Linked DNA regions of Homo sapiens: region 2 is linked to region 1. Evidence: fine-mapped expression QTL. A gene starts in region 1. The other region holds a variant in brackets. All regions are shown on one strand. Distances are between the middles of the regions. Region 1 holds the start of TSPOAP1 (TSPO associated protein 1). Region 2 holds the start of SUPT4H1 (SPT4 homolog, DSIF elongation factor subunit).

What was found.
Region 2: its variant is fine-mapped to the expression of TSPOAP1 in unexposed skin (GTEx, PIP above 0.99). The same link has a PIP of 0.9 or more in atrial appendage and skeletal muscle.

The regions. Positions count from the first base shown.
Region 1 is chr17:58,320,710-58,336,673 of GRCh38, forward strand. TSPOAP1 (TSPO associated protein 1) reads right to left here and starts at 8,086. Exons shown (of 32, transcript NM_004758.4): 1 at 6,879-8,086; 2 at 5,974-6,081; 3 at 5,584-5,712; 4 at 4,825-5,004; 5 at 4,102-4,293; 6 at 2,759-2,836; 7 at 2,589-2,672; 8 at 2,241-2,330; 9 at 1,945-2,067; 10 at 1,599-1,703. The coding sequence starts at 7,211. TSPOAP1-AS1 (TSPOAP1, SUPT4H1 and RNF43 antisense RNA 1) reads left to right here and starts at 4,741. Exons shown (of 5, transcript NR_038410.1): 1 at 4,741-5,019; 2 at 7,341-7,412. It overlaps MIR142HG (MIR142 host genes), which reads right to left and starts at 11,811. Exons shown (of 1, transcript NR_186557.1): 1 at 10,179-11,811. MIR142 (microRNA 142) reads right to left here and starts at 10,609; the gene lies at 10,523-10,609. It also overlaps MIR4736. RefSeq lists silencers at 4,009-4,078, 4,119-4,208, 6,469-6,528, 7,139-7,248, 11,819-12,128 and 1 more and enhancers at 4,346-4,894, 6,929-7,088, 7,959-8,028, 8,559-8,728, 8,829-8,908 and 11 more.
Region 2 is chr17:58,341,768-58,355,751 of GRCh38, forward strand. It overlaps SUPT4H1 (SPT4 homolog, DSIF elongation factor subunit), which reads right to left and starts at 10,434. Exons shown (of 5, transcript NM_003168.3): 1 at 10,300-10,434; 2 at 9,635-9,741; 3 at 5,762-5,817; 4 at 5,421-5,474; 5 at 3,411-4,546. The coding sequence starts at 10,368. The coding sequence ends at 4,479. It overlaps RNF43 (ring finger protein 43), which reads right to left. Exons shown (of 10, transcript NM_017763.6): 10 at 11,909-13,219. The coding sequence ends at 13,176. It overlaps TSPOAP1-AS1 (TSPOAP1, SUPT4H1 and RNF43 antisense RNA 1), which reads left to right. Exons shown (of 5, transcript NR_038410.1): 4 at 9,977-10,147; 5 at 10,232-11,960. RefSeq lists enhancers at 2,451-2,980, 11,215-11,750 and silencers at 10,008-10,117, 10,398-10,827. The variant G/A (reference allele first, on the strand shown) is at 10,636.

The sequences.
Region 1 (15,964 bases):
TAGGGAGAGAGGGAAGAGGGATAGGGAAGGGGGAGGCCGAAGGGTTTCTCCCTCCTGAACACCCACCCTGAACCATACCTTAGACCAGAAGGCAAAGGGGACCAGGAGAAGCGTGGCTGAGTCAGCTCCCCTCTTTCCTGAGCAACCATCCTCCCAGTTTCCCCCCTACCTCTCTGGATGCTCCTTCTCAGCCTCTTTTGCCTGCTCCCTGTCCCCCATTTTGAATGTTAGGGTTACCCTGGACCCAGTGCTGGGCCCAGTTTATATTGTCTACTCTCTTCCTAGGGCTCCCATCTACTCATACAACTAAACACACTGGTGGCTCCAAATATCTCCAAGACCAACTTACCCATAACCCCAGGCTCATGTATCCAAGTGCCTGTGGACAGCTCCCCTTGAATGTTTAACGCGCAGCTCAGACATGGCCCAAATGGAACTCAGCACTCGGGATGACCTACCTCTCAGATCTGCTGCCCCTTCATCCTTCACCTCACGGAGTATGAAGAGCCCCACCCTCCACCAAGGTTTATACAGCAAATGGCTGTCAGAGAAGGGATTCAACTGGAATCCCACGGGGATCCTTGTCAATTCTTTTTTTTTTTTTTTGAGATGGAGTCTCGCTCTGTCGCCCAGGCTGGAGTGCAATGGTACGATCTCAGCTCACTGCAAGCTCTGCCTCCCGGGTTCAAACAATTCTCCTGCCTCAGCCTCCTGAGTAGCTGGGACTACAGGGGCCCGCCACCATGTCAGGTTAATTTTTGTATTTTTGGTAGAGACGGGGATTCACCATATTGGCCAGGCTGGCCTCGAACTCCTGACCTCAACTGATCCACCCACCTTGGCCTCCCAAAGTGCTGGGATGACAGGCATGAGCCACCATGCCCGGCCAGAACCTTGTCAGTTCTATCTCTAAAACATAACTCAAACCCAGGCACTTGTCTCCCGTTCCACTGCATGCATCTCTGTCCAGACAGCCACCATCTCCCTCCCAGGCCACCGCCCAGGCCCTGCTCCACGCCTGCTCCCACAGTCCACCCTCCATAATACCAGCCATGTGATCCTGTAAAATTATGACTCAGATCATGTCACTCCCCCACTTAGGATCTTTCAGGAGCTTCTATCTACTCACAGAGCAAAATACCCAAACTCTTCCCATGGCCGTTAAGGCCCGACAGGATCGGGTTCTTGTCTACTCCCACCACGCTGCCCATCCCTTGCTGTATTCTAGCCACATTGGTCTCAGGCTTCTTCAGCTCTTCCCTGCCACAGAGCATGTGCATGTCTACACCTCCTGGCTGGCAAGGTCAATTGTCACCTCCTCAGGGAGGCCTTCCCTGATGACCTCTAAAGTGGCTCCTCACCCCATCCCAGTCACTTTGTCACATCACCCTGTTCTTCTCCACCACTGTGCTCATCAGTGTCTGAAATCAGCTCACTCCTGGATGCTAATTTGCTGACTGCTCAGGGACCTGGTCTTTGTTCCCCACAGTCTCCCCGACGCCTAGCACAGTGCCGGGCACACAGTAAATGCTTGTGGAATGAGTGAGTGGCAAAGCTGGTGTCCAGCAGCCTGCCAGCTTCCCTCACTGCCGCCCCACCTGCTGCAGTCTCCGGACCTCCTCCTGCTTCTCCCGTAGGCTGAGCCGAGCCTGTTCATGCTCCACCTCCAGCTGCTGCCGCCGCTGGGCCACCTCCCGCATGTGCTGAAACACAAGATCTGAGTCAAGGCCAGAGCCCCTACTTGGCCATTTCTAGAGAAGATCTAAGATGAGGAAGCCTCAAACACCATTTGCTCCAGATTCCTCTATTACAAAGGAAACTGAGCCTGGAGCAGCTCCAGGCCCAGGCCTCAGAGCTAGTGCCCCTCACTAAGAATATTCTGCTGTCCCACTTGCTCCCCATGCCAGGGCCCAGCACCCTCTCCCACCTGCACCATCTCCTCACCTTCAGCACTTGCTCCAGGCTCTCCAGCTTGCTCTGCAGGCCCTGGCTCTTGCGAAGGGCTGAGTCCCTCTCCTGTGTCACCCCCAGGAGCTGGCCCCTCAGCTCCGCATTCTCCCACTCCACCTGGCGAGGGGGCAGTGACAGGGAGTTGGGTGGGTGAGCCTTGACCCACCAGCACCCTCACAGGGGGAACAGTACCCTACCCCTGCTCAGGGGTGGAGGAGAAAGCCCCTTGGCTGGGGACCGGGGCAGTGGTGGGAGCACAGGTCTCCACAGCACCTGGGCGGAAGTGGTACCTGCTCCTTCTCTGTGGCTCTCCCACTGAGCCGGGAGTTCTCCTCCACCAGGCGGGCATTCTCATTCTGCGCTTGTCTCAGCTGCAGTTCCTGAGCGGGCAGAGGAGCTCTCAGGAGGGAGCCCAGCACCCACATTCCCCCTCTCCCCACACAGAGGACCCTGCCCTCCTCCCAGGCAAGGCCTTCCTCCCCTGCTGGAACCTGCACCAGCCAGGAAAGGAAAGGAGCAGGAGGGAAAATGTGTTCTTGAGGGCAGCAGGGGTGGGAGCAGAGCTGAGAGGGAGCCCACCACCTGGCTGGCCGGGGTGAAGGGAGGAGCTGGCCTCTGGGTTGCCCTCAAGAGCTCACCAGCTCCTCACATCGCCTCTGCTTTTTCCGGGCTTCCTGCTCCAGGCTCTCGCATTTCTTCCGCTTCTTGCTGAGCTCCGATTCCTGAGGGGTCAGAACCAAGTGCTCCTCATGAGGGAAGGTACATCTGCCCACAGCAGGCTGCCTCCAGCCCTTGACCTAGGACTTACCAGCTGCTGCACCCTCTGCTCTTTCTCTGGCTCCCCTAGAATCACGGGTAGGTTGTCCGCATCCTCCTGGGGCGTGGCCTGGAAATGCCCAGGGGCAAGGGGCTGGCACCTGAGAACAGGGCCCCAGGGCAGCCTGCCCCAGCCCAGCCTGCCCAGAGCAGGTTCCCACCCCATCATTCAGCCAGCAAGAGATCCCTGCCTAGCAAGAGCAAAGAGGGGTACTGTCTGCCCACCCACCTCCCATTGTCTCCAGCTGATGTGTAAGTACAAAGGCTGCACCCCTGTGTCCTGGAGCCATAAGTGCTTTGAGATCCTGGGACCCACGTGTGCCCTGGGAGATGGGTCCTTTATCCAGGCCAAAGCTTTCCCTTTTTAGCTTCCAGCAGCAGCCCTGCTCTGCACTCAATAACTGTCCTGGGTGTCCTTCAGCGACTGGCAGAGAACTAGGAGGCTGCCTGGGCCCCCGGGGATGTGGTGTTCCCCAAGATAGGGGTTCTGTATCATCCAAATCTGGGCTTGGCCTAGAGCAGCGCAAGTCCAGCCAGACCCTTCTCCTGGCTTCCCCCAAGCCCACCCTACCACACCTTCCGATTATCCGTGCAAACTTTGGGGGAGGACAGGTCTTGATGGGAGGGTGCATCTCCCTTCCAGGGCCAGCCAGGGAGACAAAATCTGAGCAAGAAGCCTCCCCCCACCCGGAGGTCTTGGTCACTATCAGATCACTGCCTGGTCTCTCCTCCCAGCCCTCTTCCCAGAAGGAGGAGGACCTACTTGCTGCCTACCTAGGATGATGGCGAGAAGCCAGACCCTTAAGTTCTGGGGGTCCTAAGCGGGTCCCTGGCCCTCGAGACAGGGGCTGCCTAAGCCCCCCGCTCAGTGAGGGTTGCCTGTACCTGGAGCCGGGGCGGACGCACCGCCGCCCCCGGGTAGCTGGGGCCAGGCCTGGCCAGCCAGGCGGGCGCTGACGGGGGCGTCCCCGCTCTACGGCGGCGGCGGGAGGAGGCGGCGCGGGCTGGGCCCCGGGCGGCTGCCAGGACAACCAGGGATTTGCGGCCGGGCCGTACCACTGGCAGCGCGGCAGGGGCGGCCGGCCAGGCCCCGCTGGGCGCAGGCCTATGGAGGGCGGAACCCTGGAGCCCCCAGGGGAGGGCACGGCGCAGGTACGAGCACGGGAGGCTTGGAGGTGGACCCTGCCCAGGACGGGAAAGCTCCCCAGCCCCTGGGAGTGCGCACACCACCACTGAGTCCTTGGGGTTCTGAGCACGGTGCAGGGGAGATCCCGGTGGTCGTTCCCCCCACCCATCTGCACGCACCCACACACCTGCCCTTGCGCCGGCGCTCACCTCTCCCGGGGCCCCGGGAGCAGGCGCCCCTGCTCTGGCCTGGAGAGCAGGGCCCGGGGGCCAGGACGGCGGGAGCGGGAGCGTCTCCCGCTGGTTGCGCAGCGCGATCTGCCTCTGCAGCCGCAGCACCTCCCGCTGGGACTCGCGCAGCAGCCGATCGAAGTCCCGCACGTGGAGCCACTGGGGACCCTCCTGAGGTTGGGGGACAGGGACAGGGAGGGGACTCAGGCCTAATCCTTGCCCGCCCCATGCCATCCCCTGCAGAGCCCTTCGCCTTGCTGGAGGGGCTCCGATGCGCGAGACTGTGCACACCCTCCCATGGGTACATGCCTGGTTACATGTGCATGCGTATGTGGCCACATGCTCCCGCGAGCCCCTATGCGGTCATTCTCAGTAACTTATTTCTTGGGTGCTCTCAATGTGCCCAGCACTGTGCTAAATACCTTGTGAACATCCCTTCACACAGGGGATGTGTGGATGCATACAGCCAGACCCACCGGCAAACAGCCTCAAGCCTGGAGCACAGAAATGCCCAGGTCTGGGACTCATGGCTCCACCCCCTTCTCCCCTCTCCCACCTGGGCCGTTGCCAGGGGAACCTACTCCCAGCAACCTCCACCCTCCCTTTCATTTGCGTCTCATTAACATCTTGTCTGCATCCCACAACAGGCAGATGGCCCTGTGCAGGGCTGAGCTGGAAGAGGTGACCAGGGCCTCCTCGCACCTTGCCCACCAGAGTGAGCCTGGCCTGCAGCTCCCTGCACTCCCGCTGCAAGGCAGCAATCTGCTTGTCCTTGGCCAGCAGTGCACTGGCTGTCTCACTGAGGTCCCGGGCTCGCTGGCGGGCTAGGGCCTTCCGACACAACTCCAAGCTGGTCCCCGGCCGGGGCAAGGGGGCACTCACCTAGCCAGAGGAGGGGTAAGGCCAATGGTCACCTGAGGGCTGGGGCACTTCTCCCACTCCTCATCTCCTCCCAAAGGAGGAGTTAGCATGAAAACCTAGGGGGGTAGCCACCTGCTTCCACCTTGACTGGGGTCTCAGAAAACCAGCAGCCTCACTCTACCCCATCCCAGCAGTTGGAAAGGATTAACTCTACATCTGAGTTTAGGATCAAAGGATGCTGCTAATTTGGGGCTGCCACTGTGATGGGTCTCATCCCTGCCCCCACTCCAGCTCTATACCCTGAGATGAGCTCAGCAGAAGGCTGCCGCCAGCACCAGCACGTGGTAATCCAGAATCCTGCTCCCTGCCTGCTCAGGAACCTCCCCATCCAGCTCTTCTCTGCCCCCTGCAGCTCCAGAAACCTTTGGCCTCCTTGCCTGGCCAGCCTCTGCCCTTCCTGCACCTTAGCCCCTAGATTCTTGCTTTCCTAGGTGCTGAGCTGAGACCGTGACTCCCAAGCTTCAGACAGCCCTCAGGCCCAGCCCTGGCTCCCCTCTTCCTTGGTCACCCAGCCTCCGCCCAGCAGCCTCCTTTCCTCACCACCCTCAGGTTCGTTTCCTGCAGCTTTCGGGCCCTCTCCTCCAGGCGCTTGGCAATGACCGCCAGCTCGGCGTTCTTCCTCTTCAGCCTCCGCACCTTCTCTTCTGTCTCAGGGAAGCTGCTCTTCCTCTGACAAGGGGTCAGGCAGAATTGGGGCATGTAGGGAGCACCCCACAGACCCAGTCCTAACAGCCCAAGTCTTGGGCTAGAGCCCTAGGCTCACAGTGGGGTCCTTGGCAACTCTAGGCAGGGGTTCACCCTCTCTGGGTCTCAGGATTTTGTCACCTCCATTGAGCCCCCACTTGGAAAGATGTTCATGGGGTGAGGAGGGCACTGAGGCAGAGGGCCTGGCTCCAGCCAGAACGCAGCACCCCAGTCTCCAAGCCTCACCAGCATCTGGTTTTCCTCCTTAAGGATGGCACAGCGCTGCCGCAGCTCCCCCAGGGCCCTCAGCAGCTCCAGATTGGGCCTGTCCCCAAAGCTCATATTCAGCTTGGCCTGGCATGGGAAAGGACCGAGGACAGCACCTCAGAAACCCACGTCACCCAGCCAGAGCCTTCCCTGTGGAAGCATCCACCATCCATGGTCCAAGGAGACATGGAGATGAAACGGTTTCCCCTATGTCCCAGGCCTTCAGAGAGGAGCAGAGGAGGCCTAGGAGAAGGAACTGTCCAGTCCTCCCTGTCCACATAGACACCCCCAAACCTGGCACCCTCCTGCTCCTCCCTGATCCTTCCCATTCCTACCCATCTTCTCCTCCAGGGACATGCGAGCTCGAGCTCCCACTCCCATCCCTCCAGACTCCCCTGCCCTCCCCCAAAGTCCTGTTCCTTCCCTCTTCTACAGGAGCCTGCTCACACCCACCCCAACCCTGCCTCAGCCCAGCACCAAGCCCCCTCCCCTCAATCTACTTCCTCTGCACTGATTCTCTGTGCACCTCCACACTCCCCCTGTATCCCCCAGCCCCTAAGGACAGACAGACTCATGGAAGAAGAGACACAGACAGACACACTGTCAGGAGGAGGCACAGAGAGGGACGGGGCAGCAGCAGGGCCAGATCTAGACAGACAGGCAAAGAGGGTCAGAAGGACAGACAAATGACGAAAGAAATGGAGCCCCTCAGATTTCTGCTCGATGAAGAGAGGACAGATAGCCACAGAGATGGACCCACAGACAGGCCAAGAGAGGACAGGTGGGCATTGGGGATGCATACCTCGCCTCACCTCCTGGCCAGGCTGGAGGACATGGTGAGAGACCCCCACCTTGCAGACCCCAGCCCTCCACAGATCCCTTACCTTCAGGAAAGCCTCCACTTCCTCATCCTCTGGCCTCTGGCAGGCGGGTCCAGAGCTGGATGCTTGCTGGCCCAGGCTGGGCAGACAAGCCTCTGCTCCTTCAGGGTCAGTTCCCCCCACGGGCCTGGAGCTCCCGTCTCCTTTGGGCTTGGAACTCTCCTCAGACCTCAGTTCTTGAAGCTGCAGAGCTGCCGGAGGAGTATCAGCGATGCTTGGGGCTGCACTGCTAGGTTCACCCCCTCGACCTGGAGTCCAGCTATGCCAGGTGGGCAGTGCCCATGGCTCCATGGCTCCAGGGTCCCCAGGCCGTGGGAGGGTTGTCAGTTGCTCCATGGTACTGCCAAGGGGCCCCAGAACCCGGGCCGGGGGACATCACCCAGCCAGGTGGGGGGACTGGCGAGGGTCATGCCAGGCCAGCCCCTCTCCCCTCTGAGCTCTTGCTTCACCGACGCTCCATCCAAGGTTGGCTGAGCTCTTCCCCACCCACAAAGGAGGCTGCAGAAGGCGCCAGGGCTGCTGGAGCTGGAGCCAGGGGTATGTGAGCTATGTTTGCTGGTAGCTGTGTGTGTGCGCGAGTATGTGGAGGAGCGAGGGTGTCCCTGTGGGGGTAGGGAGGATGTGCAGAGGCCACCGACAGCTGCGCCTGGGTGAGGGTGCGTGTGTGTGTCTCCAGGTCTGTCCGTGCAGGTCAATGCTGTCTCATGTGTTGGGAAGATGGGTGCCCCCACTTCTGTGTGTTGAGGGGGGTGGTGCTGTGTGTCACTGTCTGCCCATTTCAGAGTTGCCAGTTGTTTGTGTGTGTGTGTGTGGGTGTCTGTATTGCAGGGCTGTGGCAGTATGTGATGCTGTCCCTGGTTGTATCTGAGTGTGTCAGTGTCGTGCAGCTGTGTGCATCGGTGTCGTTGTGTGTCTGTCAGTGTCTGTGGGTCTGGCCGTCTGTCGCAACCCCTCAGCCCGGCCAGAGGCTTCAGGAGCTGCTGGGGGTGATCCCCAGTGGTCCGCTGTGGTCCTTTATCTCCGGCTCTGCTCTCTGCTGCTGCTCTTTCGCTTGCTGGGTGGCTGGGCTGGTCCTAAGGAGGCCTGGGTCGATGGGCTGCTTGCCTCATAGTCTCAGCCCCTGCTGGCCTCTGCTCTGGGGACTGCAGGGGTCCCTTACAGTCCAGGAGCCTCGAGATGGTGGGCTCCGAGGAGGGCTGAGCCTCAGAATTGGGTGGGGGGGTGAGCCGGGAAGAGCCAGCCCTCCCCTCCTCCTCCTCCTCCTCCCCTCCCACCCACCAATAGGAAGTCGGCTGCTGGTTTCCATGGTGATGGCGCTGGACTGGTGGGCTGAACCGGCTGACAGGGTCGGGGACAGAAGGAAGAGCAGGTTTCTCACGGCATGTCAGCCCAGGGCTCCCACATGTGGCCTCCCACCCTCATCTTCACACATTCTCACACCTTCCGGAGTACAGAGGCGAGTGGGGTGCAGATGGTCCTCCCTACATCGGGTGAGACTGATAGAGACAGAACGGGGGAGGGTATGACAGAGATCCAGCCACAGAGAAGGGCAGAACTAGAAAAGATGGGACTTGAGATGAAACAAAGAGAGAGACAGAAACCAAGAGAAAGAAACCGGGAAGACAAGCAAAGAGACAGGTAGAAATAGACGGAGAATTCCTTCTGCTTCCTCCTGGCAGATTGCACTTGGGGGGCAACCTGGCTGTCCCAGGCCACCAGGGAAGCCCACATGGCCTGTTGGGTTGGCTTTGTCCCGAATTGCCTGGAAGTTCATCTTCTGTCTAGCCTTAGATCTTGTTGCTAAATAATTTGGGGGACAAGGACGTGAGAATCCCCTCAGCCAGGAGTCAGTCTATATGCAGTGGCAGGGGTCTAGACAGAGTCCCCAGAGCCAGGGGTGTTGGGAGAAGCCCCGAGAGGCAGCCCCTCTCCACTCTGAACCCGGGACTCATTAGGCAAGCCAGTTTCAGCCAAGGTCGGGGGCCCTCGTGTGGCACCCCCACAGAATAGCAGCGGTGATACTGAACCCTAGAGCCCCTGACTGTGGGCTCCACCCAGGCAAGAGCCAATGGAACTGGAGGTAGGGGGTGCATGGGGAGGAGTGGACATCTTCACTTCCCTAAAGCAGTGTGTAGGTCAACACGCACGCCACTGCATGATGTGTTGCTGTTTAGGTCAGAGTATATATGCATGCCATTATGCGCATGCGTGTGTATAGTATGCATCTATAGAATAGACATTATCTATTTCTGTATATGTGAAGGGGCCATTGTGTGTATATATGTGTGTGCTATTATGTGTCTATGAGTCACATAATAAAACGTAACAAAAACACATTGGGTGTATCTGTATGTATGTTTCTGTGTCATTGCATCTATGTTTGTTTGCCACTGTGTCTATGTGTGTGCTGTTATGTGCATGGGAGGCTATCATTGCATGAGTTTATAAATTACAACACATCATGATATATATAGATATGGATGCTACTATATGGCACAATGTAGTAATTGATTACACAATATATGACATGCTCATATCGTCATGTAAATATGCATAATGACATGGTTTGATTTATATATATATATCACCATGTATCTATGTATTCTATATTTATCATGATATATGAACATGTCTCTATCTATGTATGTGTATGGAGCCACCGTGTTTATTATGCAAATGTCACTGTATGTGTGTGCTCTTCTATGTGTAAGACACGCCCTATGTTTCTATCATTGCATGTGTGTACTACTGAATATGTATGTGCCCTGGGTGTGTGTAATCCCTGTGTGTGTCATGCCAGTCATGTCACATGTGTCTGTGTGTGTGTTACTGGCACACTGAATGGGGCCTCTGTGTGTAAATGCATTTGCATCTCAGTGTGTGCTTTGTATATGAGTGTCTGTGCCCTTGTCTAAGATGCTGTGTATGTGCCACAGTGGATTTTGCCCAATTTTTATATGACCTAGGACCCCCTAGACTTTCTTAGATTAAAACTGGATGTAGGCAGCTTTCAGTTTGGGTATGTAGGGGGGCAGGATAGGGCCAGAGCTAGGGTAGAAGGTGAGAGGATGCCTTACATCCCTGCCCCTTTCTGCAGATGGCCCAGGCCCTTCTCTCCTCCGGCTGTGGCCTGGCCAGGCCCAGAGCCCTCTTCTGATCTCATAGGCAGGGCCAAACCCGTATCTTCTGGAGGAGCGACAGAGGTTCTCCCTCCCAGCCCTTCTGTGCGCCCATACTGTCCATGTGCCTGCCGCCCGCATTCAGCTCCCCACCCCAGCAACAGAGTCTCAGACAAAAGAGAAGCACAGTCCAGTCTTTATTAGCATTGGGTCCCTGGTCCCACCACCCATTCCCCTCCACGTACCATCCCTTCCCACCCCTTCCTCGTCCTTGACGCTGCGGCTGCATCAGGGTTCCACATGTCCAGCCCTCCCCGCCCCCAAAGACTGCAGGGCAGCAGAGGAGCTGCTGTGGCCTTTCCCCAGCTGTCCGGAACCAGGAAGGGCAGGAAAGCCATGGAGGCCTTTCAGGCATCTGGGCAGGGTAGGGAGGGGCCGTAAGGTGCTCACCTGTCACACGAGGTCCCCGAGCGCCGAGGAAGATGGTGGCGGGCAGCGGGCGGCAGCAGTGGCGTGATCTCCGAAGCCCACAGTACACTCATCCATAAAGTAGGAAACACTACACCCTCCAGTGCTGTTAGTAGTGCTTTCTACTTTATGGGTGACTGCACTGTCTGTCTGTCCGTCGGCGTGTACTCTTCAGGCTGCCCAGGCCTCCTGACTCCTGCTCCAAGAGCCCCCCAGCCCTCCTTGTGGCTTCCTAAGATCCCCCCAACCCTGCCAGGGCCCCCCGAGGGCCCGCCCTGGGCCTTGTGGGCGGTGACTCAGCATGGCGCCAGACTTGCCTCCTCTACCTCCCTCCCCCACTTCCTCTTCAGTTCCCTCTTCCCTTCCCCCTAAAGGCTCCACCCCATCCCCCCAGTTTCAGAGACACTCAGGTAGAGACTAGGGCCTCTGGAGGCCTCACCTTCAGTTCTGTGAACCCCTGGCTGGCCGCTTCCAGCCACGCTAGCCACCCTCCAGCGTCCAAATGAGGCAGCCACAGCTCCCCTGCCAAGGTCTTGGTCTCCAGTCCACCCCAACCGTGAGGTCCTGACTGCCCAGAGCCTCAGTCCCCACCCTTCAGCCTCCCCACCAGCCCAAGATCCTGACCCCCCAGGGCCTAAGTCCCCAGCCTCCCCAACAGCCCAGGGTCCTGACCCCCCAGGGCCTCAGGCCCTGGCCTCCCCACCAGCCCAAGGTCTTGAACACACCAGGGCCTCAATTCCCAGCCTCCCCACCAGCTCAAGGTCCTGACTCCCCCAGAGCCTCAGTCCCAGCCTCCATAGCAGCCCAAGGTCCTGACCCCCCAGGGCCTCAGTCCCCAGCCACTCCACCAGCCCCAAAGTCCTGACTCCCCAGAGCCTTGATTCTCGGCCTCCCCACCAGCCCAAAGTCCTGACTCCCTCACTGCCCTGCTGTTCCCCTGGCAGGAGCCCAAGGCTATCCCAACAAAAATGGTGGCCATGTTGGGCGGAGGAAGAGGCTGGCGCCCCTTGAGACACTGGTCCCACTTCTCAGCCTCTGCGTACCCTCTGCCATCCCCGCCTTACTCTCCAGCCCTCCTCCTTGGACACCTCTTTCCCCGCCTGGGGTCCCGGAGCCATTTTACCTTCCTTCACTAGAGAGGGTTTCAAGGCGCTTTGCCCTGAGCTTCCCGCATGGGGCTTGCACCCAAGCTCCTCGACACCCCCAACGCGCCTCCACCCAGACCAGCAGCCCAAGCCCCTAGAGGCCCCGAGCTGAGGAGCCCCAGTTGGGGCAGCAGTGAAGGTCCGGATCCTTACCTGAGGCTGCAGGGCGGAGGAGAGCTCGCCCTGTGCTCCAGGCTCCGAAGTGGGGTTCCCTTCAGGGAGGGCAGGGCTTATAACCCCGAGGCCACGTGGGCCAGATCTCAGGGCGCCCAACGGTCTCAGAGCGCGCCCCGCCCCCGCCCGCAGGGGATGAGCGCCCTCCCTCCCTCCCTCCCTGGGGAGGACAGACTGACAGGAAACAGAAGGGGGTGGGCCCGCGGGAGGGCTGGGGACCCTCTCTCATGCCCTGGGCAGGTGGCTTCCGGCCCCAGCTGCCCTTCCCCCCGTGGCACCAGCTCCAAGGGATGGCTCAAGAGCCTGGGACTGACTCAGGGCATTGAGGGTGACCCCAGAAGACCAGGGCTCCTCGACAGGGCCCTCGGTGAGTGCCCAAAACGGGGAGTCCAGAATTCCAGCACAAGAAAAGGACCTTCTCTCTGAGCCCCACCGCTGCTGACCTCAGCCCAGAAAACTCCCTTCCCTTCCCAACACTCAGGCCAGGCCCTGGCTCCTCTGCGTGTGCTCCCGAGGGCCATGGAGGTGCTGATGCATGAAGGGCGTCCATGGAGACTGTTGTCCTCAGCACCCCACAAAGCCACCCCTCCTGCAGCCTCAGCCTGCAGGGCACAGTGCGGGGGACACTCTCAGGCCCGGTGGACTGATGGCACTAGGCTAGGTGTTCACGCTCTCTTTGGGACCTGTGGGGACAAGAGGGCAGGGCAGAGCTGGGTGAGGATCAGGTCCTAAGGTGGGGCACAGGTGCTATGCGGAGAGAAGGGGGCTTGGAGGAGTGGCGGGAAAGAGGCTCGAGGGAAGGTTCTGGCGGCCACCGGATGTGGGCATGGGGCCCACCCACCTGCATGCCACCCCCGATTTCCCCATGGGGAAGGCAGGAAGCTGCCCAGCCCAGGGCCCCTGGCTGGGGGAGGGGAGTAGGGTGTGGGGGTGGGCAGGGGACAGCGTCGGCTGAGCCCAGCCCATACCATCTTCCCCCAGCGTTCTCCAAGCCTCTCCATGGGCTTGGCTCTGGAAGCAAGAGGAATGGGTTTGGGGAGGTAGGAGCGGTAGAGAGAAAACCACCCAGTGACTCCTTCCCAGAAGGCCATGGACCTCTTCTCTGGGTCCTCCGTTTAGGCCCACACAGACCTTAGGGAGCTGTCAGATTCAGGGCCTAGAAGAGGACTGGCATGGGGGCAGTGGGGAGGGAGATGGCCCCACATCCTTCCCTCCAGGAAGGGGGTCCTTCAACCTGGAAAGTTGCCCCATTCCCAGGTCCCTAAAATGGGACAGAGAAAGGGGGAATGGGGCCTTTCACCCCCTTGAGTCTAAAGAGAAAGTGGTGAGGAGGGTTGCCTTGCAGGGCCAGCTGGCCAGAAATGGGGCGATACTCCTTTAAGAGACCACCGCTGCCTCTGACCTGGGTGGAGGGGAAGTGGCTGCCCCAGGCGATAAGAGGATAAGAATATCAAAGTTGTGCAGTAACCTGGGTTCCTGGACCCCCATTCTTCAGGGCTCCTCCCCTGAGAGCATCTTACCTCCTACTCCTGCTTATGATGCCTCCATAGCCCTCACTTCAGAGGCGTCCTGTCCCCACAAAAGAGAGTCACAGAATGGGACCCAGGAGCCCGGCTTCTGGGCCCAGCTATGCCATAGACCCCTCAGCATGTGACCTGTGGCGAGTCAGAGCTGAGGTTCCAAGGGACACACATGGCTCCAACAGTCTCCAATCTAGCCCTTCTCCTGTCCTGAGCAGGGTGAGGTGTCCCTGCTGCCTGTTGTCTTGTGACAACAGAGGCTGATTTTCTCTGTACAACCTCAATGCCTAAAGACCACCAATAGTTTTTATTTTTATTTATCTATTTTCTTTTTTTGAGAAGAGAGCTTAGGGCCCAGCTTCTCTGTCAACGGAGCTTCTGGGGTCAGGGGGTTTCTGGATAGTCTAGGCCCTCTGCTGGTTCCCATCCCGAGGCTGGGGCTAAAGAAGGATGGAATGAGGACCTGGACTTTCCCCAGCCCAGCGATGACTCCCGACTCTGCTGGGCCTCAAACCAGAAGAAATGGTACAGGGCCAGAGACAAAATCAAGGACAGGGGAAGGGGCAGAGTCTAAAATAAGAATACAGAGACAATAAGAAACTTTGTGAGAATGGCTAGGATACATGGAATGGGCCGTCCACCTGTGACTGGAACAAGGCTGCTGGACTCGAAGCCTGACGTAGGCTGCCACCACCCAGATGCGTGGCCTGTGTGACTGACCAGCAGGTGCCTGAGGGAAGAGCAGCCAGTGCCTGCATGGAAACACACATGCAGACACAGCGGCCCAGAGAGCCCAAAACATTCAGACACAGACACGCTGTCGCCGACACACCCCGCAGTCCTGTACACACACCTAGAGGAGGCCTATCTACACTCCTGGACACACCTGCGTCCTCCCCAAGAGACACAGGGAGGGTCACCTGGGAATCTGGGGCCAGTGCTTGACAGGGTGACTGGAAGGAGCTGGGGGTGGATTCAGAACATAAGTACCTCTGTGAGAGTGGCCTGGCTCCCACTCCTGCCTCCAAAGCCACCTGTTGCCTGAGTTCCCCAGGATGAGAAAAACCAAACCCTTGATGTCTTTGTGGAGAGAGGAGTTCAAGTTGATACTTCAAACTCCGCCTCCTTGGCGGCCGATCCAGGTTCAAGCAGGCTGTCACTGGGCAACCTTGGCTCACTTGGACTTGCTGTCAAAAGTCCCCCACGGCCCTCCCTGGTTCTGACATTCAGATTCTTGCTCAGAGGAAGTAGGGGGCGGGGGCGGCAGGAACAAGGTGGGAACAGCCCTTCATCAGGATAGAGGGATCTGGGCTTGGAATCCTGGAGGGCTCCAGGCTCATGGTCCCTCACTGCCACCCCCACCTTACCGACCTGGGGGACAACCATCTCTGTGTGCCAAGCTGAGGCTGTGGGTAGGCAAAGGTGAGCCGGCAGAGAAAAGGACACAGGACCTGTCCTTGGGCACTCCCAGCCTGATAGGCAGTGTGTACGAGTGTGTGTGTCAGTGCAAGTGAGTGTCTTGTACCCAAAGCAGGGGCAGAGCTTCAGGTCTGATGGGGACACTTGGTTCCTACTTCTAGTGAGCACTGAATCTGAGGGTGAAGTAGACACACACATCTACATTTAACATAGTAACGGCAACAGGCACAAGGCCATCCCAGGTGGCAGTTGCCAGGGCCCAAGGGGCTGGGATGTTGGATGCTGTAGTAGCAACCTTAGAGTCACAGGAGTCCCATCAGAGAAGGCTTCCTGGAGAATGTGAGTACAGGTGGAAGAGGGTTTAGAAGGAGAGATTGGGCAAGGAGGAGAAACAGGGAGAAAATTGTCTTTTGAAGGCCTAATGCCTGTAAGGAGAGCAGGCCCAGAGGGTGGAAGAAATGACACAAGCTCATTGTCCGCACATGAAGGCAGAAAAGAAAACCAACCCTTCCCTGCCATCTGCATGGGCCTGGGGCCCTCACTCACAGGCAGGCAAGCAGCCAGTGGGAGATGGCAGCCCAGATAACCTGCCTTACAAAGAGCCAACAAGAGAGAAGCCACAGACTTAACCACTCACAAACAGGAAGTCCAGAAGGCAGAGCAGACCCGCCCTCCAGTAAGCTACAGTTGGGGACAGGCCTGGCCACAAAGGAGGGAAACTGAGCCCCTAGCATTGCAAAATGGGGCTAAAGCAAATTGGAGTCAATAGTCCCAAATGTTGAGACCCTTCCCCATCTCCCTGGAGGGGCAGCCAAGGGAAGCAGGTGCCAAGAGAGGCAAGTGCCTTAAGAACCTAAGACAGCCCATGTCCCCTACAGAGATCATCTCAGCACCTCAGAAGATCTGTCTCATCTCAGAGCCTTGGGAGCACAAGGAGTGCTAAAGGGCCTCCAGGCAAGGAGGGCGGGCAAACTGGCTGCCCCTCAGCCCCTGCCTGCTCGTACCAGACTCCCCTAGGTTTAATTTCATACTCTCCTGCTCTACTCTGTCTGGCAAGGGGCAGCTCCAATGCACAGTGGCCCACACTAGGAGGTCACTTCGCACTGGGGCAGGGTTCTGGCTCAGATCTCCTGGGATCATAAGACCCAAGGACTTTTAAGCAGCAAGGTTAGGCAGCAACTGGTCCCGAGTCAGGAAACAGAGCTGCAAGCCCAGAGAGAGGCAGAAGGCAGCCTGAGGTCACA
Region 2 (13,984 bases), 20 kb after region 1:
CTCTACCAAAATATAAAAATTAGCTGGATGTGGTGGTGGATGCCTGTAGACCCCGCTACTTGAGGCACTGAGGTGGGAGGATCAACTGAGCCCAGGAGGTTGAGGCTGCAGTGAGCCATGATCATGCCACTGCACTGCAGTCTGGGTGACAAAGTGAGACCCTGTCTCAAAAAAAAAAAAAAAAAGTGAAAGAAAATAAAAGAAAGAAAGAAAGGGAAGGAAGGGAGAAAGAAAAGAAAGAAAAAGGAAGGAAGGAAGGAAGGAAAGAAAGAAACAAAATATAACCAGCACCTTAGGTGCTTCTCATGCCCTCCTCCACCACCACCTATCACAGCTAACCACGATCCTGCCCTTAACATCATAGTTTTGTCAACTGCACTTCCTAGACAAGAAACTTCATTTTAGAGGTGACTTGGGAAAGTCACAGGGTTGGTGGCTGGTGGAGGCAGCAGGGCCAGGACTCTGCCCTTAGTTAGATACATGTATTTTCATCGCACAAGTCTCAGTGTTCCAGTGGGGTGTGACGGTGCCATCATCAGTCTGCAGATTGAGGGAGGTGAGGAGGAAAAAGAGAGGTTGGGAGGTGTGGGGCACACAGGTCAGCAGGTGCGTAAGAGCTGCTGGAGTGGAATAGAAGATGCAGCCAGGGGTAACTCATGAAGGGCTAGACTGGTTTCCCAATGCTCTGCACAGGAATCCTTGAGTAAATCCCAAGGATCCCCTCCCTGGGCCATTGCCCCACTGCCTCCATCTCTTTGGCTAATTTTAGACTTAGGGACTAGAGTGGTGGGATTAGAGTGGTTGGTGGGCTCAACGTGTAGGGACAATGTGTTGTAATAACTTCACTCAGAAGAAAGCTAATGCCTCACACTGGTTCTGTTGAACACTTATGGAGGGAAAAAAACTTGCTGTGTTTGTGGACAACTATGTCACAAACAGTTAGTAGCCCTAAACTTAGTGTGGACATTATATTTCTTGAGCTGAGGCTCCACTACTTGATTATGGCTAAAACACTTTTAACTCTTTTCTTCCCCACCCCGAGACAGAGTCTTGCTCTGTCACCCTAGCTGGAGTGCAGTGGCACGATCTTGGCTCACTGCAACCTCCGCCTCCCGAGTTCAAGCACTTCTCCTGCCTCAGCCTCCCATGTAGCTGGGATTACAGGCGCCCGCCACCACACCTGGCTAACTTTTTATATTTTTAGTAGAGACGGGGTTTCACCATCTTGGCCAGGCTGGTCTTGAACTCCTGATCTCATGATCCACCCACCTTGGCCTCCCAAAGTGCTGGGATTACAGGCATAAGCCACCGTGCCCAGTCAAGACACTTTAACTCTTTGAGTCTCAGTCTCCTCATCACCAAATAAGGATGTTAACTAGTTCCAGGGTTTCTGTGAGAATCAAATGAGATACTGGATATGAAAGCCCTTTGTCAACTGTATTTGGGTTTGTTTTGTTGTTTTCTGAGACACGGTCTCACTCTGTCCCCCAGGCTGGAGTGCAGTGGCGCCATCACGGCTCACTGCAGCCTCAAACTCCCAGACTCAAGGGATCCTCCCACCTCAGCCTCCCAAGTAGCTGGGACTACAGGTGTACACCACCATGCCTAGCTAATTTTTTGTAGAGATGGGCTTTTGCCATGTTGCCCAGGTTGGTCTTACACTCCTGGGTTCAAAGTGATCTGCCCGCTTTGACCTCCCCAAGGTGCTGGGATTAGAGGCATGAGCCACAGCACCCAGCACCTTTGTCAACTGTAAAAATATTTACATGAAAGGCTTTACTGATACTAAACATGAACCAGACTTCCAGACAAAGTTATTATTAGTCTGTTCTTAAACATGACCTACCTGCCTCTTTCATAGAGACCAGATGTCAGGGAGGGGACCTGAGGATCAAGTAGCAGGCTGCAGACAGACTAGGAGTAACAAGGCAGAAGCCACACCAAGAGCAAAGCCTCAGTTCCCAACCCTGGTGAAACTGCTCCCCTCCAAGACCAGACCATCCTGACCCTTGCTCTATCAGCTACCAGTCCTTTCTTGAGCTGGAGGCTGCATTATCAATGCACTGCCACTGAGCTCCTCAGTGTTCTGGGAGACCCTAATTCCACAGTATGTGGCAGGGAGGAAGCAGGGAATGAGGCAAGGGCAGGCAAGGGGAAGGCAGCCTGGCTACTATTCCTAGTCTCTGTCTGACTTGCATCTGTCCTTGTTGAGCTAGGGAGGAGGCTTGCTCTTCAGGAGAGAAGCCAAACTACTGAGCAAGACAAGGAGAGATCTTAAGATGCTATGCACTCAGAACTTCGGCAGCCAGGACGGGACTGAAACTCTGACAGACACAATGGGCCAATGGGGCAGGACATAGCTCTCATGGCTGCCCTCATAGCCATGGAAAGCAGGGCAGCAGTACCAGGACCGCCCACTCCCAGGGAGCTGTGAACCAAGTCCTTGTCTTAGTTTCTTTGGGTTCCCAGTAGAGGATGGGACTCCAGCACCTTTCTGCCTGTCTGGGTTGCTGAGTGGCACCACCTGCATGTTCAAGTACCAGAGAAAGCAAGAAAGCTAATTCAGCAGCAGCTCCCGGGGAGAGCCCACTTGGCACAGTCTGTAGAGTCCAGGAAGGAAAACAGGCCACCCTTCCCCCACAAGCATCAATGCCTATGCTATGTCTTTTGCTTCCTGTGAGACTGTCAGTTAGGGCCCAGTTCAGTGTAGGGCTGAGGCAGCCTGAATGTGGTTATTTGTGCAAGCTCCTCTTGCCTCCCCTCCCCACAACTGTTTCCATTCTCACCAAGCAGCCACGTCCGGGTCAGACACCCAGGACAGCAGCTGGGGCTTTCCAAGGGACTTTTTGAGAAGCTAGTGAAAGTTGGGTGTTGGCTGCACAGCCTGGGCACTTGCTGAAACGCACTTCTTCCATCCAGGACGTAAGCTCTAGCCTGGCAGGGTTGCTTTCAGGTTGAAATTGAACAGAAATCACCACCCACGGAGCTTTCTGTTTGCTGGGCTGGGGAAATCCTTGAGAAACTCAGTTTGGAGTTGGGGTTATCTGACCATTCCCTCAGAGCTTGAAGGCACCAGAGAAAATGGTTTTGGTTTGAAGACCATAGTGGACATGAGCAGCCCGGCCAGTCCCAGTTTCCCTCCCATAGGCCTATGTGAGGACAAGGAAGGGGAGTAGACAAACTAATCAGAGTCAGGTCGCATCTCTCCTCCTTCCCACACTCTCCAGGCCACAGGTAACAAGCAAAATCAACTCAAGAGCAACACCAGGTGGCTGAGACACAAAGCCCTAGCACAGGCAGCTCTGCCCTAGCACAGCACAGCTCACCCTGCAGTTGTGGTTCTCAGCATTTCCCCTACTATTTTGGCTGATTGTGCACATATTCTATGTATTGAAAAATGGCCCAAAAAGGAGAGCAAAAGTATTTCACCTTTATAATACTTATATAATTTTCACATAGCTTCGTTTCTACAATCACAACAATCCTGAGGTAAACAGGCAGGGTGCAATCATTCTCTTTTTAGAGGGAGAACAAGGAACTTAGGGAAATCAAAATGGGGATACGAACAGGATTTCTGTGGAAATTTAAATGAGAATTTGTGGTAAATTTTTTTATCCTAAAACAACTCACCTTGGCCGAAAAATGGGATGTTACCCAAGGTCCCCTACTAGGCCGGAGGAGAAAAGGACCTACCTCCTACAGGGGCACAAACAAGGGAGACTAGGACTCAATGGTCGCCCAAGGCCCAAGGGTCTCCAGTGAGTGCTTGAGACTGGCCTAAGGTATAGGAAGAGCCGTGAAGAGAAGAAAATAGACAAGCAGGGGAGGGAAGAATTATTAAACATGGTCAAGGAGCACTCTACAAAGCCTCAGGATTTCTTCAAGGGATACTGCTGTGCCAGGTCTCGAGGGCAGAAGGATACAAGTGTGAGACACCAGGGCCACCAAGTTGATGGGGTTACTGAGCCTCTGGATCAGCACCCTCCGATAGGAAGCAAGGAAGCACACTACAAAGGCTGCAATCCCAGAGGCTGAGACAGTCAAGAGGGAGTAGAAGGGCCTCTGCTGCTCTGGGAAGGTTCTTATAGGGCAAATAAGCTATTACTGTGCCTAAGAGAATGGAAGAGGGAGGCAAGGCAGGTGTCATGGCCTTCAGAACTTTCTCGAGGTTCATATTTATTGACATTTGACCTAGAGTCCTTGGCATGGGGAAGGCACAGACCTGGGCCACGGGTAGGAAAATCAGCATCCTACTCTCTCCTCAATTCCATCTGTTAATCCACCAACCCAAATCCCTCCCACCCCACCTGTAGTCCAAAGAAGATAAAATGATAAAATGATGTGCTGCTCTCTCAACAGTCAGCTGAGTCTGAATTGGAGGGTAGGAAGTATTTGAAGTTCTGTTCATTTAGTTCCAGAACAAGAAATAAGCAGAGGCAGGAGGTGGAGAGCAAAGATGCTGGCAGCCTTGCATCTTGCTAGGTCTTTATAGCTGTGTCTCTGGATTTGTAGGCCACTCCTCGACTTTTCAGCTCCCGCACGATTCCTGAAGCAGGAAAAGAAACAGTTCTGTGAGGTAAGATTCAGAAGGGTAAGATAGGCCACTCAGCTGCCACCTTGAGGGGGGTACTATAAGCAAACTGGAGTTCCTAGACTACTTATCAATCGTCTGCTTGGCCAGGCACGGTGGCTCATGCCTGCAATCTCAGCACTTTGGGAGGTCAAGGTGGATCACTTGAGGTCAGGAGTTCAAGACTAGCCTGGGCTACAGAGCAAGGCCCCATCTCTACAAAAAAATTTTAAAAATTAGCCAGGTGTAGTGGCTTGCACCTGTAGTGCCAGCTATTTGGGAGGCTGAGGCGGGAGGATCCCTTGAATCCATGAGTTCAAGGCTGCAGTGAGCTCTGATAATGCCACTATACTTCAGCCTGGGTGACAGAGACTCTGTCTCAAAAAAAAAAAAAAAAAAAAAGGTCCTGCTTAGTTGACTCATTACTAGTGAAGACCCAGGCAGGTATTCGGTAAGAATGAGAAGAAAAAGAGGGATACATGTAGTCATCAAAAGCAAAGGTTCTAAGCCAAGCACCTGTAGTCCCAGCTACTCAGGAGGCAGAGGTGGGAGGAGCACATGAGCCCAGGAGTTAGAGTCCAGCCTGGGCAACATAGTGAGACCTTGTCTCTAAAAAAAATAAAAAACAGAAACAGCAAAAATTCTGGAGCCAGAATGCCTGGATTCCAATCCTGGCTCCTCATTTACTACCTGGTGACCTCCAGCAAGTGATTTAACCTCTCTGTGCCTGGTTCCCCCCATCTGTAAAATGCTGAACCTCATAGAATGTGAGAATTGGCATTAATTCAGATAAAAAAACTTCCACAGAGCTTTACAGTAAATGAACATTGGCTGTTATGATTATTATTACCTTGGGGCAGGCGACCAGTGACTGACACCGCATATACACCTGGCTTAAAGTTACCTGAGAGAGAAGAAAAAAGATACAAGATTACAGTGAAGTTAGTTAAGACTCAAGATCAAATGGAAGCTTAAGCTAAAGAAGTGATGCAACTCCAAGAGAAGAGCTATTCCCTCTTTTGGCTACAAGTGTTAAATGACAAGGCACAGGACACTGCTTCCCTGTGTTTCCTACAACCCGATCTTTCCCACCCTGAGGTCACTCATCTTGCTGATTTGAGACTCCCTAATGGACCTGAGGAACAGTAACAACACTACAACTAAGCCAAAAGGAGACAGGCCAACACTTACTGACTCGCTGCCACTTGGAGACCCAGCTGTCCTCTGGACTCATCATCGCAATGATTCTAGGGAGGGAAAAGAAATGGAGAGTCAGCCTGAGCCTCCCTGGGCCTGAGCTCAATTCTGAGAGAGGAATCTAGGAAAAAGCCAAGTACCGAGTCTCCACTGGAAAGCTGGCAAAACTGCCTTCTGATGTTGGGATGAGGCTGACTCAAAGCTAGGACTGACAAAAGTTCTTCATTCTTATGTCCTTGGCCGGCCAGCCACAGGTCAGTTTCCATCCCCAAAAGATTATCTCACTCAGCTCACAAACATCCTTAGCCTAACATTCCCTAGAAAATGAGACGGCTTTAGGACAAGGGGTCCAATAGTTACAACTAACACAACTACAAGGGGTCTAGGGCCTAGTGCAAAGAGGAGGGTGAGTGAAAACAACGGATCCTCCTACTAGAAAGGAGTTCAACTTGGCTAAACTTTTCCTCTTAATGACCTATACATATGGGGACCCCTCTAATGACCTATACATGTGGGGTTCCCTTCTCAGAACCTCATCAGTAAGCTGAGACTCAAAGGTTGAGATAATACATGAAAAACACCTAGCACAAAGACTAGCACAGAGTAGGTGCTAAATAAGCATTAGCTCTCCTCATTATCCTAATAGTCCTTCCCAGGTAGCTGTGATTCCAGAGGAATGGTAAGGCTATTCAAGGGCTAGAAGATGCTGCTTGAGCAAGATGGGTAAGCATTTTTGTCATTCAACGCATTCAATCAAATGCTTACTGACTGCCTATTGTGTGGGTGTAAGCACTGACATTTGTTGACTGCCTCAATATGCCTCCCCTCTTCTCTCAGTAACAATCTTGGATTCTTATTTGAGAAGATTCCCTTCCCATCCAAATCCTACATTCTCAGCCATGCGCTGTTAAGTGGAACCGACCCTACCTCCAGGGGTGACAAGCAGAACACTAGCCCCCAGCCCTGCAGCCTGATGGGAGATAGGCATGTATGCAGGCCATCCTCCTGACCACAAGTATATTCTTCTCTGTCCTTTGCAATCTATCTTTTTAGCCTTAGGGTCCCTACAGCCCAACCTTATGATTTAACCTAAACAGAATTCCCACTGTTCTCCAAAAACATCCTGGTTTTTCCCATCCTAAGCCTTTGCTCTAGTCACTCCCTTTATTTGGAATGTTCTCTCTCTCTCTCACCTCAACTTCCTCAAAAATCCCAAACTTCTTGCCTTAAGAGGAAAGTACTACCTCTTCCAATTCTGGTTGAGGTCATCTAGCCCTCTTCCGATCTTTAATTTGCCCACTCTTTAAGACCTAATATGCACTAGAATTATACAAATAATTCCTACAACCTAACAACAAAAAAACCAAACTGAAGTCAAAAATGAGCAAAGGCCTTGAATAGGCATTTCTCCAAAGATATACAAATGGCTATAAGCACCTAAGAGGCTCAACATCACCATTCATTGGGGGAAATGGGACACCAAAGTCACACCCATCAGGATGGCTATTATTAATAAATAATTAAGTGTTGGTGAGGATGGGGAGAAATTAGAACCTTTGGGCACTGTTGGTGGGAATGGAAAATGGTGCAGTTGCTAAACAGTATGACAGTTCCTCAAAAAATTAAACACTGAACTATCATATGATCTAGCAATTTCACTTGTGGATATACAGATGATCCCTGACTTACCTTAGTTCAACTTATGATTTTTCAAATTTATGATTTTGCAAAAGTGACATGCATTCAATAGAAATCGTTTTCAAATTTTAAATTTTGTTCTTTTCCAGGCTAGCAATTCAGTACAATATTCTGTCATGATGCTGCGCAGCAGCCATGAGCCACAGCTTCTGGTCAGCCACAGTAACATAAGCGTTCTGAGCACATTTGAAGTAGGCTAACTTATTATATTCAGTAGGTTGGGTGTGTTAAATGCACTTTTGGCTTATATTTTCAACTTATGATGGGCTTATTAGGTTGTAACTCCTCGGAAGTTGAGGTGCATCTGTACTGAAAATAATGAAAAGCAGGGACTTGAACACATATTTGTATACCAATGTTCACAGCAGTATTATTCACAAATAGCCAAAAGGGAGAAACAACCCAAGATATCATTGATGAATGAATGGGCAGCAGAACATGCTATACACATACAAGGGAATATTATTCAGCTCAAAAGAGGAGGGAAATTCTGTTGCATACTACAATATGAATGAACCTTGAAGACATTATGTTGGTGAAAGAAGCTAAAAAATGCTACTGAATGAGCCCATAGGTACCTAAGGGTGCCTAAGGTGGCCAAATTCATAGAGACAAAGCATGGTGGTTGTCAGGGACAGGAGGGAGGAGAGAACGAGGAGCTAGTGTTTAATGGGTACAGATGAAAAAAGTTCTGGAGATGGATGGTGGTGACGGTTGCACAACAGTGAGTATGCACTAATGCCACTGAATTGTGTATTTAGAAATGGCGACCGGGCACAGTGGCTCATGCCTGTAATCCCAGCACTTTGTGAGGCTGAGACGGGAGGATCACCTGAGGTCAGGAGTTCGAGACCAGCCTGGCCAGCATGGCAAAACCCTGTCTCTACTAAAAAAAGTACAAAAATTAGCTGGGCGTGGTGGTGGGCGCCTGTAATCCCAGCTACTCAGGAGGCTGAGGTAGGAGGCGGAGGTTGCAGTGAGCTGAGATCGTGCCATTGCAGCCGGGCGCTGTGGCTCACTCCTGTAATCCCAGCACTTTGGGAGGCCGAGGCGGGTGGATCACGAGGTCAGCAGTTCAAGACCAGTCTGACCAACATGGTGAAACCCCGTCTCTACTAAAAATACAAAAATTAGCTGGGTATGGTGGCAGGTGCCTGTAATCCCAGCTACTCAGGAGGCTGAGGCAGAGAACTGCTTGAACCTGGGAGGCGGAGGTTGCAGTGAGCCGAGATTGCGCCACTGCACTCCAGCCTGGGCGACAGAGCGAGACTCCATCTCAAATAAATAAATAAATAAATAAATAAGTAAAATGGCTAAAATGGGCCGGGCATGGTGACTCATACTTGTAATCCCAGCACTATGAGAGGCCGAGGTGGGCAGATCACCTGAGGTCAGGAGTTTGAGACCAGCCTGGCCAACATGGTGAAACCCCGTCTCTACTAAAGATATAAAAATTAGCTGGGAGTGGTGGTGGGTGCCTGTAATCCCAGCTACTCAAGAGGCTGAGGCAGGAGAATTGCTTGAACCCAGGAGGCAGAGGTTGCAGTGAGCCGAGACTGCACCATTGCACTCCAGCATGAGTGGCAAGGGCGAAAAGTCTGTCCAAAAAAAAAAAAAAAAAAAAAGCAACAGCTTTTGGGCAATGATCTACCATTACTACACCTCCCTTCCCTTCATTTTCAAAAAAAATTTTCATGCATTTAACAAACATTATTAAGATTACATTCTTTCTTCTCATGTTAAGTCTTTGAAATCTGGGGTATATTTTATACTTAAAAGCATGTCTTAATTTGGACTAGACACATTTCAAGTGCTCAGTAGCTACACGTGGATAGTGGTCACTGTATTAGATGCATAGCACTAGTATGTCCCAAAATAACTGTTGAGGCTGGACACAGTGGCTTACACCTATAATCCCAGCACTCTGGGAGGTTGAAGTCAGAGGATCATTCCACGCTGCAGTGAGCTATGATCATGCCACTGCACTCCAGCCTGAGCCACAGAGCAAAACCCTGATTCAAAAAAAAAAAAAAAAAAAAAAACCCACACAAAATAACCCCCAAAAACGAATGGCTGGGCCCAACTAGGATTAACACTTGCCCTGCATTTACTTCTCTGGGTGCAGGTTGGGTAATGCAGAAGTGAATGATGGAAACTGAAGCGGCTTACCCATCAAAGGAAGAGCTAGTGCAGTCATATACCATCTCTCGGTTACCCTTCATTTGTAGATATGCATCACAATTGTCACAACCATCATATTCAAACTGGTCTATAGTCTGGGAGTGAAAGAAAAATAAAGGAAAAGGAGAGATAAGCATGAACAAGACCAAGAGAAAAAGTAGCTTTCTCAATACTTCGACCTGCTCAATTTCTTGTTTCCCTATGTTGACTGTGTATCCTAAGGTTCCCCACCTACTACTCTCAAAGCTTCATTCCTAAGTCCCACCCTCCCACTCCTTCCTCTCTCGTTCCCAATTCCGTTTTATCTATTCCTTTCTCTAGTCTACTCAGGGTCAGGCATCCTTTCCGACTACTCACTCAGCAGCGGATCCCCACCCGCCTCTGACTCCCAGTGTCTTTCGGCTCCAACGTAAGTTCACCGAACGTCTAAGAGCTGAGGATTCAAAGGCATGTAAGACCGCCCCTGCCCTCAGCTGCAAGACCTGTCCGCGATCCTACGAGGTAAACGATGGCCTCCTTCGGCTTCTCACTCCCCCTGCCACCTCTGAGTTCTGAGACTTAACTTTTCTCTTTACTGTCCCACAGCCCCATTCCGCCCTCTTTCCCCGACCTTGGTCCCCCATGGGCCCTACAACCAGGTCCCCGACTGACACCTTGACCAGCGAACACAGCAAACAGGCCCGCAGATGCCGCAGGTCCTTCGGCACCGTCTCCAGGGCCATCTTCGCCGATGGGAAGAACAACAGGGAGATAGACGACCACAGCCTGTGCACCCGCAGGAAGTAAATAGCTCGTTACCCAGAATGCCCACCACTTCCGGCGCTTAGACTTCCTCTTCCGGTGTGGGCGGACGCCAGCTCCGCCCCTACCCCCGCCAGAGGAGATGGTTTCTCCCGCCAGCAGGCGGGGAGGCTGGGCGGCCGGCCGCCACCTGGGCCGGAGCGCGTCGCAGCCACCTGAGCCCGCCGAGGGCGCGGCGGAGGCTGTGT[G/A]GGGTAGTCAGCGGGCCCCCGGGGCGGGGGGGCGGCTGCGCTTGCGCGGGAGTGTGTCGGGCTGAGCCGCAGCGCCGAGACGCGGGCTGTTTGATCTGGGCTGGTGGCCCTGGGCGTCGGTCCTGTTCCCCGATGGTAACCCGAAGTTTGTTTTTTTTTGTTTTGTCTCCCCGTTTTAGAAGCATTGGGGGCAGTGAATCCACTGTCTCCCTCTGGATTGTCTCTGCAGAGACCGAGAAGAAATCCAGGGACAGCCCCACCCCTCCTTCCTAACTGCGAGAGCGCTATAGGGTTTCCACTTGCTTCCCACAGGAATGCTGGCCTGGGAGCTACGGCGGAAAAAAATGCGTATTTATCTTTTAAAACTCCGTCTGTTTGCTCGTTCCGGCTGATAATTTATACTTTGCGCAGTTCTTAGCGCTTAGACACGGTTCCTTTACTAAAGACCATTTGTAGGAGATTAGGTGTCCTTTTTTTCCCTTTCATTTCACCGTCTAGGAAGCGAAATGCCTTGTTCTATAGGCACTAAACCACCACCCCTACCAAACCTTTCTCGGGGAAGCAGAAGGGGAACTTGTGCCTTGTGAGGAAGCGACAAAGGCCCCTTCTGGCCCTGGAGACTTCACGCCAATGGAGCACCAGCTCTCTGTCCTCGCAATAGCCCGAGTGCAGGCAGAACGCAGTCATTTGTGTTTATCTGAGAGGAGCTTTGGGATATAAATAGTTTCAGGCCCCGCTGCGCTGTCATTCCAGCCCAGCCTCCTGATTGAGCTGCTTCCGGGCGGGCTTTCTTCTTGTTGGCGGTCCCATGCTGTGTTCAGATGGGCTCTGTGACAGGTTTGGATGTTTTCTATCACTGAATAAAACTTTCCACTTTGGAACATATTTTCTACACTCTATTATCTCATGTAAGTCCTGCAACAACTATTAAGTAGGCCCATTTTATGGACTGAAAAAGCGAGGCACAGAGTATTTGCCCAAGGTCTGAGTCACTGAAGTATGATAATGTGTGAAGTGAACAGTATAATAATAATGACTGAAGCACAGTAAGAATCCAGTCATGCTTTCTCCTTCCCTGATCTCACTAAGCCACACTTTTAGGGGCTTACAAACCAGTTCTTATTGCCAAGCCCTCTACTCTACCCTATCCTTTCATGAATCGGAGCCTAGCCTCTGATAACATAAATAATTTACTTCTCTTGATGTAGAAAGAGATGACGTTGTTACCCTGAGTGACAGTCACGACAGAACAAAACCACAAGACCAGACCACATTTGTGGATAAATATATTAGCAAATAAATATATTTCTTAACATAGTGCCTGATTCAAGCGTCTGTCTGGTTCAGATATAAATACCCATGTGGGTACCTAGGTGCTAGTCTCCCCACTAACTGAGGGAAAAAGGTTCCCAGGTGGGGTCCTCTGCCCACTTTGCCACCACATTCACATTCCAAATGGGATAATGCCTGAGGGGCCAAGAGTGGTCAGGCTGCCCTGGGGTGAATGTCACCCTGATGAGGCCCATCAGCTCTTGTCCACTCAGTGAGGCCAGACTTGTGCTCTAATCCACTCTCCTGTGGGTCCCTGGCCTGTATGGCTTATACTGGGGAGCTGGGCCTCTGGGCTGTCCAAACCCAAGGGTCACACTTTGCTTTTCCTTTGTTGTCCCCATTTTCCATCCTTGCTCTAAGACAAAACTTTTCCCAGAGAAGAACTCTTTGTTGTCCCCGCTCAGCTGTAATTCTGCCTTTTCTACCTTCATTCCATCCTTCCTCTGCCCAGATAAAGTCCAGCAGAAATTCCTCCTTTCTACCTCTCTGGGACTCTGAGACAGGAAATCTTCAAGGAGGAGTTTTTCCCTCCCCACTATTCTTATTCTCAACCCCCAGAGGAACCAAGGCTGCTGTACCCACCTCAGGGACAGAACTCCACACTATAGTGGGAAAGCTTCAGGGACCCCTCCTTTTAGTGCTCAGGGCTCACCTATGCTACTGGTCCTTTTGGCAAAAAAGGAAAATGATAGAGCCAGGGTTGCCCCTGATGTAGCAGCCTTACTGTGGAGGGGCCAAAGCTGGTGTTCAGAGCTCACCCAAGGAGGGAGGTGATAAGGTGTCATGCGTTCTGCTGAACCCACTGGCTGGTATGAACATGAGGCTTGGGGTGAGGGAAACCAAGTAGGGGTTGGAGAAGGAGCAGCACCTTTGTAACACCTGGCTACCCATAGCTAGCTTTCTGCCCTCAAAAACTCAGCCTTCAAGGGATCCAGCCCACACACGCCACAGGCAGCAGCTGGTTGCCTGGCTGGACATGGATTTGCTGCACTGCAGATGTTTTCTGCAGACAAGGTCTGGAGCTGGAGCAGGAAACGGCACCCTCTCACCCTCCACCATCACCAGTCCTCTTCCAGTGCTTCTAGGAAGTACGGCAAAAAGAATGGTGTTTGCTGTGGTCCTTTCCTTTCCCAGGAGCAGGACTCTGTGCCAGGTAGGGCCCAAACACATCTGGAGCACACTCTTGGTTGGAGCTAGGCCTGAACATCTCACACAGCCTGTTCACACAGCTCCTCGAGTTCCTCCTCTGAGCCTGTATTTAGAGAGCGGGGAGGAAAGAGGTCATTGAGGGTCAGGCCAGGGACCTGCTTCTCTCGCCTGCAGCAGAGTGTGGCTGAGAGGGGACCACAGGGAGGGAGAAGCAGAGACTGTCTGGAAAGGGTGGTTAGATTGAAAGCTAAGGGGGCCCCAGTTGGGACACAGGGGAGAGAAAAACAAATCTAAAGAAATATATATAGCAACCAGTGTGTTACCAATACTTACTATTCATTTATTCACCCAATAAATATTAAGGATTCGTTGTGAATTTGGTCTGCTACCACGTGCCAAATAGAAGACCAAAAAGAATAAGCAGGGACCTGGTAACCTTTTTGGAGAGAAAGTATGAAAACAAATGGCCATTACGCCAGTGGGACAGGACAGGAGTCACGAGAGATGCATTAAGGAAGGAGAGAGACCAGGTCCAAGTGCAGCAATCAGGAAAAGCTTCCTGGAAGTGGGGATAAATGAGCTGATTCTGTAGGAATAGGTAAGAATTAGATTTATGGGAATAGAGAAGGCAGGAGAATATTCTGGGCTACAGGAACTACAAGAATTGTTTACCCAGTTTGGCTAAAGCATGGGCCTGGGGAAGGGAGGGAAGAGAATAGAAAATAAGGTTGAGAAGGAAGATGGGGGCTGGCTGGTGCAGGAACCTTTGAGGCCAAAGCAGGTTGGATTTTTCCTCTCTGTGGACAAACAGAACATTTGAAGATTTCTGGACAGTTTAGTGTAAGGCAGATGACGCTGGCAGCAATAG